2 linked regions of the Homo sapiens genome follow. The protein of the gene in region 1 purifies or fractionates together with the protein of each later gene. This does not show direct contact. Each region holds a gene or a part of one and is shown on either strand. Other genes may lie near its edges.

Region 1 (3,853 bases):
ATGCTGCTGACTCTTGCTCTCCAGACACATTGACACTCTGTCAGGGCACAGTCCCCACTTACTCCCTGTAACAGGCTATAATTTAAAGGGTAGTAGGATGGAGAATGAATTTTTAAAACGTGTAGACACCTTAGGACGTTCATAGGTTGTGGTGAAGTAAGTAGCTTCCTTTTTATCTTGTTTATTAATTTTCTTATTACTTCTCACTAGAATACAAGCTGCAATAAATGTACTTAAACACCATCATGTGCCTGAAATCAAAATTACAACTTTATATGCTTATATGAAAAAAGATAGCTTTCTTCATTTAGGCATGTAAATCAGAGCACATTTGTTTTCTTTATACCAGTTTTTTTCACTTTCAGTTCAGCAAACACTAAATCCACGTGTCAATGGGGAAATAGACCTAGAAGACTGAGAAGCAGATTGTTATAGACATTCTCTAGCCAGTTTTCTTTGTACCAGTTCTATTGTTATATTTTCTATATCTACAAAAATTTTCTCATATTTGGGTATATGTTATCTAAACCTTCCTTCTCCTTTGTACATAAACTTTATTTCTCTGTCAACTTTTCTTTTGATTCATTCCAACAGAGAAATGAGTCCTGTGCTGTTCTATTTTTATGTTTTCAAAGCAAACAGTTACCTTGAGTTATCTACACAGAGAGCCTCACATGGCTGTTCCCAAGCACCACACAGATAAAACCACCATGAAGCAAAGTTAAACCAGTGAATGATCATCTTCACAGAGAGGGAGAAATGGGACCAATCCTGTCAAAATGCGATGAAAATGTGGCCTCTAAAATTAGGTATTATTTTCTTCTGGATGTCAGGTTTCTTTTCCCCCTTCTAATTTCCTCATTTGAAATATAGTAGGAAACAAACAAACAATCCAGAGACAACCAATAGTTCCAGAATTTCTACAGAAATAGAATCCCTCTGTAGGAGTTTTAGTTCAATTTGATGGGACTATACATTCTTCATATAGTCTAAAATTTTCAGATGTTTATGCAAAACCAAACTCAAGACATTCAAGAATTATCTCACGAGCAAGATTTACCAACTGCTTCTCTATCCTTCTCATAAAGTGCCTTATGCAGCATGTCCGGAATGATTCTCTGCATCTGATGCAAAGCAAGAAAGATTCTAGATTTGCATTTGAATTGCTGGCTATTTTTAACTTTCTCAGAGTTTTACTTTGAGAGATATTTTACCTTTGTGGATGAGTTATGGAGTCAGGTGCTTGACCTTTACCAGCTTTCCAGTGAAAAATCCAATGAGGAAAAGACTTCAAACGTCTTACAAAACCAAACTCATTATTTATGAAGTCCTGAACTATGTCAGTGACATTCCCAGACACACATAGTGTAGTAAGGGCTTTATTTCGAGAAATTCCCAAATTGAATCCTCTTTAGTAAGAATCCTATGTGGACTAATTTTGTAAATGATTTCCAATCATAGAAATGCCTGTGAGTGATAGGATTCTACAAACAAACGGGCAGCATCAGAACTCACAAGCTGCTCTTTCCTTCCCCTTCTATAAGAGCCCTCTCTACACCATGGTGTGCAAAGGGGATTCTGTGGAATTAAAACTTGTGTGGTTTCTGGAACCCTAAATCCCCAGTCAAGCAGTCTGGTAAATAAAGATAAGGCATTTACTTGATTTCCCTAATATGGCTTTACCTCAGGGGACAGGGTAAGGAGGAGGGCATATATTAATCAAGAGGTTGTTTTTAAAAAACCTATTGTATATACTTAATATAGTTCTAGTCACCTGAGATTTATAAAAAACATCGTTGCTGCTTTCAATGAGTTTGCAACCTAATTATCTGGCTAAAAATTAGACTTTAAAATTTTAGTTGCATATTTTACTACTTGCCTATTTTTTTTCTCATCAGATAGATTTGTTGAAAACTGAAAATGAGCTCTGATGTCCAGAATCTTTTGGAGTTTTAATTTTACACTCAGGAAAACACCAAGATGACAAGGAATCTACATGTGGGACTCAGCTGACATTTTCCCTATTTAGTATAATGCTGGCAAATGTAAGCCAAAGCCCTCCTGTCCAGTATTATAAGTATCTTCTCTTTCTTTCCTAAGAAGTCAGCAGACTTGACATTTGACTGCTTATTCATTTCCTCCCCTCTCCAGAGCTGAAATTCTCACCCAGGATCATCTGTCACCCGGGCTTTGATGAGGAGGGGGTTTAGGCATTTGCTGTCTGAACTGTCAAACTCAAAGTCAGCTTTGAATGGAAGGTCCCACCATGTGCTTTAGAAAAATAGGGTAGTGGCTGTGGGCAGACAGCAGAGAGGAAGGGAGAGAGAAACATTCTGAAAGAGCATCTGATGTGGGCCTGGGAATATAAAGAGAAGAGGTGAGAGGACAGGTGAATGAGAGTTTAGTGAGCCCATGGCAGATCCAGGGCTTAATTATTATAAAATAATTCCCTGCAGCACTGTATTTCTGAGGTGTATGATTTTTTTGACCATGTGGGCATTTACCCTTTTTAGGTCAAACTGGACACTAAGAAATATACTATAGATATGATTGATTTGTTCTTTCAAGAAACACTTATTGAGCATTAACTACTGCCATGAACTGTGCTAGGCATTGAAAGTACTGTGATGACGATGACCTAGTCCTTAACCTTTCAGAGACTTACAGTTTAAGGAGGGGTGGAAGGAGGCAGATAAGTGAACCAAATATCACAGCATAATGTATTAAGGACCGTGGTAGAATTATGCACAGAGTATTCTTGCAACAAAAAGGAGAAACATATTGTGAAGATTAAGAAAAAAATCCAATCTTAAAAATCTGTGACATTTTTATGACAGTGACACATACACACTTTTGGAGAGATATACTAGTGTCGGGACCAGTTGCACTTACAGAGGAAGATATGAGAAATTACAAAATATTAAAGAACACATCCCCCAAAATTCAACCATTAGTTACCAAGCTTCAGGAATCGGAAATTTGAGAAGTTATTTGGTACAGAATGAAGCTCAGAATTGACCAAAGAAAAGGAAAGTTTAACCTATGTAGTAGATCAGGATTTGAGAGTTTCCCAATAGTTTAATTGGAGGTAGTGACATTTTTATTGAGCAATTAAATGAAACACCCTTTGGATTCAAAAATTAATGCTAAATCTAGAGTAACTGATGAGGTTAATTCCCAATTTCATGCACGTTGTGCACTGAAGTCATTTGTATGATCATGCATTCACCTGGTCAGTTTCTCAGGGTTTCAGTCAGCGCAGCCACAGACAGAGTGAAGACACTGGACATGTTGAAGCTGAAGTCTGACAAGGTACTGGGTTGAAGTTCTGTCCCAGGTATGTGAATTATAAAATTAGGTTTGGTATCTCAGAGAGGCAGACATTTTCTTTGATTTTTCCAGAATTGCTTCTTTCATTTTGGGCCTAATAAGCAGTGAGCAAATGTCATACATTTCAGGAAAATTGGTTTCTGGTTCTGGTCAAATGACTCTTAAATGACATCTATTGAATGAATTTGGAGACATGACATGCCAAGAAGTAAAAACTAAAGGGGACCTTTAAACCAAATCTTGCAGTATTATAATACATGCAATTAAAGTTTATAGTTTCATCTTAGATGATAATAGTTTAATACAAATAGGTCATAGGCAGTATGCACTAATTTGTGCCAAGCATGGTGCTAACACCTGGGCACAGGTTATTTCATTTAATCCTTGTGACCCCATGAATAATATACCATTACTACCTACATTCCTTCTGAGGAAAGGGAGACTCAGGCAAGACGCAGAACTGGGATTCAAACCAAGATATTCAGGGCTGTGAAACTGGTTTTCTAATACTCCATTATACAGC
Region 2 (3,500 bases), on another chromosome or scaffold:
GCTGCAGGTTTAAGCTAAACATTCTATTATGTGGCTTTGAAGGTGTGAGTGTGAAAATGTGTGTGTGTGTGTTTAAACAAAGAAAACAGGCTTATTTATAGCAAAATTACTCATAAATTTCAATAATCTGGTGATCATTATGAATATCAGCAAATAAAATATAGTATGCACTATTTTCTTTAAATACTTATTTTTAGCCTTTTGTTATAAAACAAAACTGATGCAAAAAAACCACACAAAACAAACATATATTTCAATGCACTGTTATTAGGCAAACACCCTTACAACCACCACCTGGGTCAAGAATCAGAAGTTTGCCATCTACCCTAGACATGCCTCCCTGTGTGCTACACTCCAATCCCAACAGAAACCTTATAGCCCAAAAAGCAACCGTTATCTGACTTTCACAGTAATCACTTCCTATGTTTCTTACACTTTATCATCTAAGTGTCCACCCCTGACATTATAGTCTTGCTCATTTTTTTAAATTTGATACGTCTTTAAGTTCTTTTTTTTTTTTTGAGATGGAGTCTCCCTCTGTCACCCAGGCTGGAGTTCAGTGGCGCAATCTCGGCTCACTGCAACCTCCACCTCCCGGGTTCAAGCAATTCTTCTGCCGCACCCTCCCTAGTAGCTGAGATTACAAGCGCGTACTACCATGCCCGGCTAATTCTGTGTTTTTAGTAGAGATGGGGTTTCGCCATGTTGGCCAGGCTGGTCTCGAACTCCTGACCTCAGGTGATCTGCCCCCCTCCGCCTCCCAAAGTGCTGGGATTACAGGCGTGAGCCACCACATCCGGCTGTCTTTAAGTCATTTTAATCAACACATTGTCTCCATTCTTTTCCTTTGACCTTATCCCTTGAAGATCACAGTCTACTTGACCTGTTCAGTTTCTCACACTGTGGATTCTGAGGACTGTGTTCTCATGGTGCAATTCAATTCACACAACCGTCCTCAGAGGACAACTTTCTGCAAGTTGACAATTGGATCCAGAGGCTTCATCAGACTCAGACTTGATCCTCTGGCAAGACTAGAGGTGGGGCTATGGATGGTCTTTGATTAGAAAGCACAAAATGTCTAGTTGTCTCTTTCATGTCTAGTTAGCATTGATGGGTGCTCAATGCCTAGATGTATTAATTCCTGGAGAGTTGCAAAATAGTGATCTTCTAATTCTATCACTTCATTTTCATACCTTATAATGAAAAGCTTCCCCTCAGCTACTACTTTGTTACTCAGTGGTACAATTCACATGGGACAGGGAAGATAAATGCTTGCTTCATCCATTTACATAGTGTCTTCAAGATGACGAACTTGCTATCTCCCAGGCTAATCGAAGAGTTTTTTAAACATCATCACAAACATATTCATTTAAACATATTTGATCGTTTCAATGACTGCTCTCATGTAAGCTTCAGCAGTCATATCTTTGGCCAGTGAGACCCTCTTCAAATTGGCTCCTTCTCCTCAGTTGTCTCATAGCTTCTTTGCTCTCTGGTTTGACAGGATGTCCCAGACTCACCTTGCACATTTCCTACCCCAGTCCCAGAATCGACCATTTCACCAAGAAGCCTAGTTTAATGGGAAAAAGCACTTCAAGATCATGACATGGGTGATAATGAAGCACACTGCACAGTGCACACCATGGCAGCCATGGAGCACTAGGGGATGATGTGGCTGAAATTTCCCATCAAAAGGTAAGTCCCATCAGACCCACCAGATTATAAGGTCAAGGGGCTACAGCCACAGTCTATCATAAAGAGGAAGTTGTACATCGGGAATCATGCACAAGCAGGACCAGAGGGCACGCGTGAGCTGCACGAATAGGAAGCCAGACTCCCCCAGCACCCACCAGGCTGCACCAACTCCCTCCCTCACTTCGCACCTACGGCTGTGTGGCGATCCTGTAAAACCAGCTGGGGGCAGAGAGAAAGGCCGATTTGGGGGATGGGGGTGCGGGGGGTGGGGTGTTGAATGGTTGGTTTGTTATATGGGTGCAGGCTGGAAATGCAGGGCAGCTCCACTGCAGCCTTACTCTAGAGTGGCCAGGAAAGACAGGGGTAAGGGAAAAATCCTCCCAACTGGTTCCTTCAGAGAGGGAAGAATAGCCCAAGTTCAGGACAGCTGTGGACTCAAGGGCAGCAGCAAGTGGCTTGGCTGCCTAGTCAGAGGCCAGAAACACAAAGACTGGAAGAGGAAGAATTAGGAAATCTGGGGTAGAGAGACATAGGTGGACATGTGGGAGTGAGTATGCAGCATGAAGATCTCTTTACCACATGATAATGCCAGCCAGAGGGCATCTACCATGAAAGAGGCACTCATCCACAAAGCATGGAAAGGGGCCCAGCCAGGGGATGCCAGCCAGTGTCTTCACTGGCTACCCTAGTACCTGCGTAATGGATGCAGGAACGAACTGGCCACAATGGCAGAGATAGGTTACACATGGCCCAACAGCATGCACACCCGCTCACCAAGGTCCACCTAGCTACTGCCACCACCAAATGTCCAAATGGCCAGCAACAGAGACTGTCACCAAGTGCCTCACACAGCACCACTCCTTGAGAGGACCAACCCACCATAAGGTGGCAAAGGATTACACCGGGCCCCTTCCATGCTGAAAGGGCCAGTGATGTGTTCTTACACTCACATACATGTATTCTTGGCACGTGTTTGACTTTCCTGCCTTCAGGGTCTTGGCCAACTTCTGTCCCCTAAATAACATCCATCAGACCAAGCAACTCACTTTGCAGCAAGGAAAATGCAGCAGTGAGCCCACAGCTGGTTTCCACCTGTTTTATTTTACTGCACGTCACCAGGAACTGCCGTCCTGAAAAAGCACTGGAATAGCCCCAAGGCACAGCCACAGCACCAGTTCAGTGAACAAACTGTGCAGGTGGGTGCCGGACTCCAGGACACTGAATCAAACACTCCAAAGGTAGGGACACACCATGTTCCCCAAATGAATAATACACGTGTTTGGAAAGCAAAGGAGAGAAACAGGATTGACTTCATTTACTATCTCAGGGACCCATTGGGAGACTTTGTAGCTTTTGTTCCCACACTCTTGGCTCTGTAGAGTTAGAGGTCCTAGTCCCCAAAACAGTACACTTTTATCTGGGAATATAGCAAGACTCCATTGAGTTATAAGATACAGCTATTGCCTGGGCACTCTGGGATCACTGCTACAGGGACAAGTAGGCAAAAGGAGTTTGCCAGGTACAATCGTCCTATAAGCAGTGTAGGAGGATCTCTGTTGTGCCACACCCTTGCAAGCATTTGGTGTTACAAAGTATATAAATATTTGCCAATTGGATGGGCTTAAAATCATATTTCGAGCCAGGGGTGGTGGCTCATGCCTGTAATCCCGGCACTTTGGGAGGCCAAGGCAGGTGGATCACAAGGTCAAGACATCGAGGCCATCCTGGCCAATATGGTGAAACCCCGTCTCTCCTAAAAACACAAAAATTAGCTGGGCATGGTGGTACATGCCTGTAGTCCCAGC

The links.
Region 2: the proteins of KCNMB2 (region 1) and MSRA purify together in Homo sapiens (affinity purification with mass spectrometry; one large-scale study listed by BioGRID and IntAct). This does not show direct contact.

What each region holds. Positions count from the first base shown.
Region 1 is NC_000003.12:178,542,804-178,546,656, reverse strand, and holds part of KCNMB2 (calcium-activated potassium channel subunit beta-2), read right to left. Parts: intron 1-3,853. UniProt on the Homo sapiens protein: Regulatory subunit of the calcium activated potassium KCNMA1 (maxiK) channel. Modulates the calcium sensitivity and gating kinetics of KCNMA1, thereby contributing to KCNMA1 channel diversity.
Region 2 is NC_000008.11:10,239,292-10,242,791, reverse strand, and holds part of MSRA (mitochondrial peptide methionine sulfoxide reductase isoform a precursor), read right to left. Parts: intron 1-3,500. UniProt on the Homo sapiens protein: Has an important function as a repair enzyme for proteins that have been inactivated by oxidation. Catalyzes the reversible oxidation-reduction of methionine sulfoxide in proteins to methionine.